3 linked regions of the Homo sapiens genome follow. The protein of the gene in region 2 purifies or fractionates together with the protein of the main gene of each other region. This does not show direct contact. Each region holds a gene or a part of one and is shown on either strand. Other genes may lie near its edges.

Region 1 (3,755 bases), on a different chromosome or scaffold from region 2:
AGCTGGGATTACAGGCACCACCACCACCGCTGGCTAATTTTTTTGTATTTTTAGTAGAGACGGGGTTTCACCATCTTGGCAAGGCTGGTCTTGAACTTCTGACCTTGTGATCCACCCGCTTCGGCCTCCCAAAGTGCTAGTATTACAGGTGTGAGCCACCACACCTGGCCTTCCTTCCATTTTAAATGAGCAGATTGAGTTAATCTTTGTCAGTGTTTTACTTCAGCAGGGGCTTTTTTCCCCTGATAATGACATGCTTCTACTCAAAAGCCTTTCATGACTTTCCATTGCCTGTAGAATTAAATTCAAACTTAATGATTTACCCTAGTTGAAGCAATGAGAGAAGTGTTCTTTAGTAAAGAGTTGGCATTATAGAACATTACAGAACATTTTAGTGCCATTTAATGTAACTACTAATGATATCTTGGAGATAGTTTTGTATTGGTTTATCTATTATTTGATAACAAACACTGCTGAATGGGAATAGATTTGGCTTCCACCAACATTTAAGAAGAGGGAACATTTTTCTTGTTTGCATCTTTAATTTTTTTTTTGGAGACAGTCTCGCTCTGTCGCCCAGGTTAGAGTGCAGTGATGCGACCTTCTCCAGCTGCCAGGTTCAAACGATTCTCCTGCCTCAGCCTCCTGAGTAACTGGAATTACAGGTGCACGCCACCATGCCCAGATTTTTGTATTTTTAGTAGAGATGGGGTTTCACCATGTTAACCAGGCTGATCTTGAACTCCTGACCTCAAATGATCTGCCCATCTTGGCTTCTCAGAGTGCTGGGATTACAGGCGTGAGTCACCGCACCCAGCCTGCATCTCTAATATTTTTAAGAGACTATTTTCTCAGTATTAACACTTAGGTGAAAAAACAGAACGAGAAGGGGGCTAGGCACAGTGGCTTATGCTTGTAATCCCAGCGCTTTAGGAGGCCAAGGTGGGCAGATCATGTGAGCTCAGGAGTTCAAGACTAGCCTGGGCAACATGGTGAAACCCCATCTCTTCAAAAAAAAAAATACAAAAATTAGCTGGGCATGGTGGTGGCACATGCCTGTAGTCCCAGCTACTCTGGAGGCTGAGGTGGGAGAATTGCTTGAACCCGGGAGGTGGAGATTGCAGTGAGCCAAGATTGTGCCACTGCACTCCAGCCTGGGCAAGAGTGAGACCCTGTCAAAAAAAAACAACAACAAAAGAGGTTGTAGGGGTACTATTCTCATTTTATATTTTCTGAAAATCCCTGCTCAGCCTGCATGTGTGACTTACTTCACATTTAGAGTAAGTGGAATCCAACCTGATGGCTGGGGTGGCTTACTGGACTTTGTATCGCCATTGTTTGGCCTCTCCGTGAGCGTGGAGTCTTTTTTAGGATTGGGTGCGGGCCTTGGGAGCGCCCCCACGTGCAAGCTCCTGGTTACTCTGCATGTAAACCCACGCTTACGTCTCTTCCTTCCTTCCCACTACAGAGTTTTATGGACGAGGAGCCCCCTACAATGCCTTGACGGGGAAGGACTCCACTAGAGGGGTAGCCAAGATGTCCTTGGATCCTGCAGACCTCACCCATGACACTGTGAGCCAGATTATAAGCCTTTGTAAAATCCTCTACCTCCTTGTCCATGCCTTTTTCTCTTTTTCTTTTTCTTTTCGTGTGTGTGTGTGTGTGTGTGTGTGTGTGTGTGTGTGTGTGTGTGTGTGTATCTGGGCAAGAGCAAGCCTTCCTAATTAGCTTATTTACCCTTCGGTCCACTTGGTATGGTGGCCAGGCATTTTCTTGAAATAGATTATCCTACCATGTCATCTCGACTCAGAAACCTTCCATGGCTGTCTGTTGCCTAGAGTCAAGTCCAAACTCTTATGAACTTGTGATCCAACTCAGTGATCATCACAATTTGGCCCCAACCTGCTTTGGCAACCTAATGCTCCTTATGGTCTGTACCTGCCACCCCATCCCCTCAGCCCCTTACAGCCTTGCTATTAGTCTCTGAGACCCATTCCCCAGGCCATGCTTGGTAGCTTTGTGGATGAACTGGGTTGGGAAGAAAGGTCTCCCTCTATGCTTATATTTCTGTGAAGGAGAAGATAGCATTAAAACATTTTTTAGGCCAGGAGTGGTGGATCATGCCTGTAATCCCAGCACTTTGGAAGGCAAAGGCAGGTGGATCACCTGAGGTCAGGAGTTTGAGACTAGCCAGGCCAGCATGGAGAAACCCCGTCTCTACTAAAAATACAAAAATTAGCTGAGTGTGGTGGTGCACACCTGTAATCCCAGCTACTTGGGAGGTTGAGGCAGGAGAATCGCTCGAATCCAGGGGGCGGAGGTTACAGTGAGTTGAGATCATGCCACTGTGCTCCAGCCTGGGCAACAGAGTGAGACTCCATCTCAAAAAAAAAAAAATTTGTTTTTTAAACCTATTCAAGGTCTAAATAATTCCAACAGTAAGGCTGGAATTTCCTCTAACTGTGCTCAACATCAAACTGACATTGAGATAAATTGAGATGAGCCAAACTCATAACAAAATGAATGTAACAATATTACAAAAATGAATGAAGAACTTAAGAAAGGGGAAGGTGCCAAATGTATAATGGGAGGAGTGTAGAGAGAGGGATAATGGGAGCAGTGTAGAGAGAGGGAGGATTAATCGGGGGGAGGAAGGGGATGCAGATGCAATAGGGCATGCCCTGCCCCACCCCAGCATGCTCTCTGGAGTCTTTCATCCCTTCCATCAGTCAAACCACAAAGTGTGATGAAGCATTGCTCCCCGTATGTTATACCCTCCCACCCCCACGCCCCCCCCACAGCAGTGTCTCTTAAGCCATTTGTCCATTATTTGGTTTGTTGAGATATCTTTTCTCTTGCATTAGGGATGTGGGAGGCAAGGCAGGGATGGAGAAAGGCCAGTGCCAAACACTATCCACTTAACCCCATCTCCTGTCTTTCTTGGGCTTTTCTCCCCAAGACGGGTCTCACGGCCAAGGAACTGGAGGCCCTGGATGAGGTCTTCACCAAAGTGTACAAAGCCAAATACCCCATCGTCGGCTACACTGCCCGGAGAATTCTCAATGAGGATGGCAGCCCTAACCTGGACTTCAAGCCTGAAGACCAGCCCCATTTTGACATCAAGGATGAGTTCTGATGTTCCCCCTGCAGGAGCAGGTTCTTGGGAGCGTGAGGCAGGAAGACACTAGGTGCTGAATCTCCTGCAAAACTGGCTGCCTGGAGGCCCTGAGCCACCCAGATCTGAATAAAACAGATGCTTACCCTGGAAGAGCAAATGCCTCCTGTTGTCCTTGGTCAGGGGTTCTGTCTACCTGGGGACCCCTGTCTGCACACCAGGGATCAATAAGAGCCAAAGTGGGACACCTCCTAGATGTCAGTATCAGCTGGCTGGGCAGTGGAATTTTGAGCGACCTTTACTTTATACTTTTCTGTGCTTGACAGATTTTCAGCCATGACCATGTTCACTTTATAATCAAAACAAAAATAAAGGTCCCATTTTTACAAAAGGAGAATTCTTCCCCAGAGGCCATTTCCTTGGAGCCCACATAAGCGGGTGGGCTGTGTTGTTCTTCCATAGTCCTGCGGGGCCGGATGGTGGGGCATTTAGGCAATGGGCAGGAAAAGAGAGTGGTGAGGTGGGAGGGTGGGCGATGGGAAGGGAGCCAGGAAACCCGGCTGGAGTGAGGGTGGGAACTGGCTTCAGTGCACGTGCAGCTGGAGATTGGTGAGGAGGGCCGGGGTCAGTGTGGGCAGAG
Region 2 (3,655 bases):
GAGTGGTAGGATGGAGTGAGAAGAGAATAAGTAGTAGGAAATAAAGTGCAGGAACTAAACAGGGTGAGATCCATGGAGTGATGGGGAGCCACTGGAGGGTTTTGAGCAGAGGAATCCTATGATCTATTTTATGTCTTCTTTTTTTGTTTGTTTGTTTTTTGAGACAGAGTCTCGCTCTGTCGCCCAGGCTGGAGTGCAGCGGCGCAATCTCGGCTTACGGCAAGCTCCGCCTCCCAGGTTCACGCCATTCTCCTGCCTCAGCCTCCCGAGTAGCTGGGACCACAGGCGCCCGCCACCATGCCTGGCTAATTTTTTGTATTTTTAGTAGAGACGGGGTTTCACCGTGTTAGCCAGGATGGTCTCGATTTCCTGACCTCGTGATCCACCCGCCTTGGCCTCCCAAAGTGCTGGCATTACAGTCGTGAGTCACCGCGCCTGTCCTATTTTATGTCTTAAAAGGATCACATTGGCTGCTGTGTTGAAAATGGATTTTAAAAGGGTGAGGGTGGAAGCAGGGAAGGAAATTAGGATGTTGACATGAGAGAGAATGGTGGCTCAAACGAGGTTGTTAGCAGTGGTGTTAGTGAGGAATGATCACATTCTGCATTGTGGTAGATTGGATGTGGAATGCGAAGAAAAGGAAAGGATGATTTCATTTCACATTTTTTAATCCTCTTAAGAACTTTGAAAGGAACTATTTTTGCCCCTATTTATGAACTAGGAAACTAAGCACAAGGACTTAGATTTTACTTGACTTCAAAAGCCATGCAGCTAGAGTACAAAATGAGGTTTTAAATTCAGATGTGTCTTCACTCCAAAACCTATATTTTTTCTACTTTACCAATAATGGAAAATATCTAGTACAGTGCCTGCAGCATTGTACTTTTTTTCTTACTATTTTCTTTTTATTCAAATTCTTAAAAAAAAATTCAAAGTTAGTAGATAAGAATAGTTCACATAACTGTAGCTATTGTTAATTTAATAAATATGTGGCTATTTTATTAGGATAAATTATTGGCCCACTTTACATATGCTTCAAAATTTTGATACCCATGAAAGTTTTAAAAATGAGAGTATACTGGCATTTGTAAATTCTTTTACATAGATTTCTAAACTAAGAGTCTTACTAAAATTAATATTTCTAGTGTGCCTGGAAATTTCATTTTTATCAGTTTATGCATAACCCATGGAAATTAAATATGTTTATGTTGTATATATAAACATTATGCAAAATATGTTTTTAAAAGCATTTTCAATGCTAAAATCCTTGAACGAAGCATTATGTTTCAAATCAAAGTAATTGCTGTGGATCCAAGTATAAAACATTAAGAGATCATCTGACTTTCTTTTTCTTTTTCTTTTGTAGGTGTAAAAGGCTTAATCTCCAGCCTTTAGCTTATCTTTGGCAGAGAAACCAGGAAGATTTGCTCAGAGAGATGATATCATCTAACATTCAAGCAATGATCATCAAAGTAGCAGCTTTGGGTATGCAGCCAAACTATCAAGGGAGCTGTTTGTTGCCACATAGATGATCTCAGTTCACTAATAAGTAGTTAAAATGAACAAAGAAAACTGATTTAGAATATAAAAATGTGGAGTCACAGCTGAAGAAATTGAGTAAGCACCTTCCTTGCATAAAGAAAAGGAAGTTTTAAAGTGGTCTTTTGACCATTTGCCGAAGTGATTACTAGTAAGGCTTTTTTTTTTTTTTTTAACATATAACAGGTTCTAAAACTGATATTGTATTATAGTCCTTCATTTTAAGTTCTTTTTTTTTTAGGGTTTGGAATTTAGGCTTGTAGGAAACAGGAAATACAAGGGTTATTTTTGTTTTGTTTTGAGGTTTTTTGGAAGCTTTTTATAATATGTATTTGACACAAAACATTTTCCTTGTATTTTTTAGCATATTTTGAATAATGCTAAAATAGAATGATGGTTTTGTTTTTGTTATAAAAAATAAATAGGGTACTGGTTTTTGTTGGGGATGGTGAGAAAATCATGTTTGAGAAAAAGTTATCTGATTAGTTAGCATAGACACAGCAGGCAGGTGGTAATCTGATTCAAGTATGGACATTACATATGAGCACATTTAATTTATTTGGAATTTCTATAATTATATTCATTTTTGAGAAACCGTAGGGTTTGAGCCCAGTCTGTTCATTTCGTGAACCTGTTATAGAAAATGCCCTGAAACCTGAGAGTTCCCAAAGCCTAAATCATGTACCTCATTTGAAAGTGTTTACCTTGCAGATCTCTGAAATAACAAGGTCTCAAGCTGTAGAAGATTTTACAGATACATTCAGTTTTTAAATAAAATTAAGAGAAATAGTACAGACCCCATAATATTTCTCCATGGTAAATACCAAGCTACTGTATTCTTGCTGAAGTTGAGGTGTTGTCTTCAGTTGAAGCCTTTATTTAGTGAATCTGTAGTTGATCTCCTTAGCTGTTAAAACAAGAAAGATTGAGTGATATTATGTTTTTATTTCTGAGAAAAGGTTGCTGAGCAGCTCTCATGATTAACGTTATTATATTTGTCATATGAATTTCTATGTGACTCTGTACAGAGTATTCCCTCTTGCTTTTTCTTTGTCTCTCACTCTCTCTTTGAATTTTCTAAGATTACATAATTCCATAATGAAGTTCACGTGACGTCTCACTGAAAGGTACACATACTATTCCTTTTACTGCCCGATAGATAAAAGACTGGATTAGGACCCAGAGAGACCTCCCTTATTGAAAAGATAGTCAAAGAATTTGACCTTATTGCCATCTTTTAATAGTATATAACCGATATTGTGTGTTCTTTCATTTCTATCTGTGCCTCTCTGTAGGGATTAGAGATGGGGAATTAGCTTTATCAAGCCTTTGGGTAAAATGTAAAAACTGAGCTGATTTGTCTTTGGCATCTCAGTAACAAAAATATAGATCTGATTTTAACATTTACAGCACTGCCTGTGTGCTGACTGCCTATAGGTGTGCAAAGATGAAAGTTATTCTTTAGAATAATATTAAAGAAAGGTTTATTAAATGGCACAGTACTTCTGAAGACATAGAAACATATAAATGATGCAATATAGGTTGCTAAGCCTTTTTCCTCCCATTTAAAATTATCAGAACAATTTTAAATGGATTTAAGCCAAAAAAAAGGGACTTTTTTTGGATTTAAGCAAAAAAAAAAAAAATGAGACAATAAGACCTTTCTGTGGGGGAGAGGGATCAGTAAAATTTTGTGGACCATTTTTCTATGAAATGGTCTTATAATAGAAAAAGGTCAGTTCTACATGAATGCATACAAATATATTTTTTATAATTATGGTATGTAACCTTTATGTCTTATAGGCATCAATGAACTCATAAAATTTCTGGCTTCTTTGTTTCATTATAATGTTTTAAGGGACTCATCCATATTATTGACTGAAGCAATAGTGTGTTTATTTTTATTGTAGTATAGTGTTCCCTTGTGGGAGACTGTAATTTAATTAAATTTAATTAACACCACAATTTAATTGTCCATTCTATTATTGATGACATATAGGTAGTATCCAGTTTGGCACTGTGATAAACAGTGCTGCCACGAAGTGGTCATCTTACACATTTTCTATCCCAGACCTAGAACATCCTTTTTTTCAGGAAGCCCTGATTTCTTTGAATG
Region 3 (3,655 bases), on a different chromosome or scaffold from region 2:
GCCAAACATATCATAAACTTTATGTTTTACAGTAAAAAATTACTTAGCATAAGTTTCTAAATGACATTTTCCCGACATTTAAATGTGCACATACAACTATAGTTTTCAAGACTAGACCATCTTAGATCATCTAGACATCAGCAAACTTTATACTGTAAAGGGCCAGATAATAAAATTTTTGACCTTTTAGACATATGGTTCCTCTTGCAACTAATCTACTGCCATTGTATGGAAGCAGCCACAGACAATATATAAGTGAATGAACATGGCTGTGTTCCAATAAAACTTTATTTACAAAAACAGGTGTTGGACCAGGTTTCATTTGTGGGCTATAGTAGTTTGCTAACCCCTGATCTAGATGAGTAGTTCTCAACCTGAGGAGCTTTCAAAAAATTTCACCCATTGATATCTACTCCTGAACCAATTAAAAAAGAACATTTGGGGATGCAGGTTAGGCATTAGTACTTATTTTTGAAAAACTTCTTAGGTGACTGTACTTTAGAGCCAATACCGAGAAACACTGATTCAAGTTTCTCACCACAAAGACCTTTTTACACAATTTTATACCTGTCCAACAGGAAAACAAACAAAAACTGGTTATTAATCTGCCTTGTAGTTAGGAAAATATCTTCCAACTAAAGATCTTTTAAATCCAGCACTTTCATCTGTATATGGAAGTTATCTGATTATATACTCTTTATATGTTTTGTTAGTCCATTCTCATGCTGCTATGAAGAAATACCCGAGACTGGGCAATTTATGAAGAAAAGTGCTTTAATTAACTCACAGTTCCGTATAGGTGGGGAGGCCTCAGGAAACTTACAATCATGGCAGAAGGCACCTCTTCACAGGGTGACAGGAGAGAGAATGAATGCCAGCAGGGGAAATGCCAGACACTTGTAAAACCATCAGATCTCGTGAGAACTCACTATCGTGAGAACTCACTCTCATGAGAACAGCATGGGGTAAAACCGACCCCATAATTCAATTACTTCCCACCGGGTCCTTCCCATGACATGTGGGAATTGTGGGGATTACAATTCAAGATGAAATTTGGTGAGGACACAGCCAAACCATATCATATGTTGTTTTACCTTCGTTTTCCTTGACCCACCTAAAATTCTACTTTTTTTTCCTCAAAAACTGTTACTAAAATGATATACTTTAAAAAGGTAGAAGTTTCTTTGAACTCTGGTAGCATTTATTCCCTGTCTTTCATTTGTTATTTATGAACATACAGCTGCCTATTACAAAATTCCCATTAGAAACAATCTTAGTTTTAGCCAACTTCCATTAGTTCTTATGATGTGAGAAAGGAATTGAGAAACCCTGAAAATAAGGAGTCTTTGAAGTTTTGTTTCAAGGGGTTATATCTCTGTTATAAACCTTTTGTTATATCTAAGTACTTTGAAGGGTTAATTTAAAACTCTTCTGGTTACTCTAGGACGTCATCTTATGTTATTTTTTCAAATTTGAAATAACTAAAAATATTTATGAGATTTAATTCAGGGAGTACTTATTCTATCTGTAATTAATTTTTTTTTTTTTGAGACGGAGTCTCGCTCTGTCACCCAGGCTGGAGTGCAGTGGCACGATCTCGGCTCACTGCAAGCACCCCCTCCCGGGTTCACGCCATTCTCCTGCCCCAGCCTCCTGAGTAGCTGGGACTACAGGTGCCCGCCACCACGCCCAGCTAATTTTTTGTATTTTTAGTAGAGACAGGGTTTCACCATGTTAGCCAGGATGGTCTCCATCTCCTGAGCTCGTGATCCGCCGGCCTTGGCCTCCCAAAGTGCTGGGATTACAGGTGTGAGCCACTGAGCCTGGCCTGCAATTAATTTTTTAAATGACATGAGATAAAGATGCAATTGCTTTTGTACCATGCTGATAACAAATTGGCTCCGCATCTTTTATTAAAAAGTTCTTGAGTTGGTATTCAATAATAATTGTTGACTGAATAAATGCATACTCTCCTCATAAAGTAAGTGTGGAGGACTCTTGTCTTTCAAGAAACTGTCTGGGCCTGGTGTTTTCTTTGTGAGCACATGTTTAATGACTGACCAATTTCTTTAATGGTTGCGGTAGTATGTTACAGTTTTCCATTTCTTCTGAGTAATGTGACAGTTTTAAAACATGGCCTGTATGGTTCACCTCCAGCAGGAAGTGAAGTCTGTATTCTTCCCCTGGAATACAGACTGTTCCAGGTGCTGGAATAGCTGGACCGGTAGAGTACTGCTGAAGTGGCTCCATTGTCTCAGGTCAGCCTTTAAGAAACTGAGATGAACTAAAGAACGAACGTTATGTAGAAAAGAGCCAGGATATGTGGGGTTTGAAAGTGAGCCTGTTCTTGACTCCCGACATCTCCAGACAGCCGAAGAGTCTCAAAATAAGAAAGAGCATCAGAGTAGGGATCAGATCTTGGTACTAGGTGATCAACTCATTTTGGAAGCCCAGAACTTTTCTGGCTTTAACACTGAAAATCTCACATCCCAGGAAATCCCTCAGTAACATGAATGGAAAGCTGACGTATTTTTAAAGTTTTCTTCATTGGTTTTATGTTCTAACTTCTAATTCTGTGTTTTCTTTCCTTTTCTTTAATTTACAGCATTTTTCAGACCATTTGGTCCCTATGTGTATACTGCTGATTACAGAGTTATTCTGTTAAAATAATTATGAAGAGAAAAATTCAATTGTGTATTTTGACACATAATTGTATTTATATACTCTTAATTTGTTGATTATTTTGTATACATAGAAAAAAGGCTTTGTGAATTACTATGGACCACAGAGATTTGGGAAGGGAAGGAAAGTTCACACAGACCAAATTGGACTAGCTTTGCTGAAGAATGAAATGGTATGGATTTTGAAAAATGTAATCTTATCTGTTTCTGTCAATTATACTTACTACATAACCCAGCTCCTTGCTTTCTTAACTCTAGCATATAAATGCATGTAAACACTCACATACCAAATATATTACATTACTGAACATTTAGTAAGCTGCTGCTCTGTCCTTGATATCACATTACAAGAAAGCCAACAGTGTGAGTGTCCTTGTGGTTAGTACATATTTGAGATTTGACACAGAAATGACCATCACTTTCCAATTTTAGTGAACTGAATAGAAGATTTAGAGGAAATTTTGATCCTACAATCCCAGAAATCAGATATCAGATCATATAAAAGATAGGAATCCACATAAGTCCAGAGACTAAAAGGGGAGCAGTAAATTTGAAAACAAAATCTGACTAGTTCAAAATGAAGCTAAAAATTCATGTTACAACTAAGAAGCTGCATTTGCTGAAATATTAAAAGCGTATGTGTGTATATCTGCTTTTAATTTATATTTTTTATATGTAATTACATATTTTTACACTAAAATGGAGTGCACATAATGGAGGAAAACTATAAAACTATAAAAATTATATATTTGAACAAATGCAAGATTATTCTTATGATAGTATCTCGTTCACTCACCTGTGTTCTAATATGATTTCTTGAGTGGAAGAGAAAGAAACAGTAAAAGATTTTGTGAGAAGCGTAGTGCATTGAACATCATCTTACATATCAAATAATGTTCAGAGCTGATGATTTAGACCACATCTGCAAATCTATAATTAGTTCTGGGTTTCACATTTCAAAGGAGATTTTAGCA

The links.
Region 1: the proteins of DPH6 (region 2) and NENF fractionate together in Homo sapiens (co-fractionation; one large-scale study listed by BioGRID). This does not show direct contact.
Region 3: the proteins of DPH6 (region 2) and PUS7L fractionate together in Homo sapiens (co-fractionation; one large-scale study listed by BioGRID). This does not show direct contact.

What each region holds. Positions count from the first base shown.
Region 1 is NC_000001.11:212,442,871-212,446,625, forward strand, and holds the end of NENF (neudesin precursor), read left to right. Parts: intron 1-1,468; coding exon 1,469-1,572; intron 1,573-2,959; coding exon 2,960-3,136; 3' UTR 3,137-3,509; downstream 3,510-3,755. UniProt on the Homo sapiens protein: Acts as a neurotrophic factor in postnatal mature neurons enhancing neuronal survival. Promotes cell proliferation and neurogenesis in undifferentiated neural progenitor cells at the embryonic stage and inhibits differentiation of astrocytes.
Region 2 is NC_000015.10:35,448,515-35,452,169, reverse strand, and holds part of DPH6 (diphthine--ammonia ligase), read left to right. Parts: intron 1-1,366; coding exon 1,367-1,485; intron 1,486-3,655. UniProt on the Homo sapiens protein: Amidase that may catalyze the last step of diphthamide biosynthesis using ammonium and ATP. Diphthamide biosynthesis consists in the conversion of an L-histidine residue in the translation elongation factor (EEF2) to diphthamide.
Region 3 is NC_000012.12:43,741,656-43,745,310, reverse strand, and holds part of PUS7L (pseudouridylate synthase PUS7L), read left to right. Parts: intron 1-2,755; coding exon 2,756-2,854; intron 2,855-3,655. UniProt on the Homo sapiens protein: Pseudouridine synthase that catalyzes pseudouridylation of mRNAs.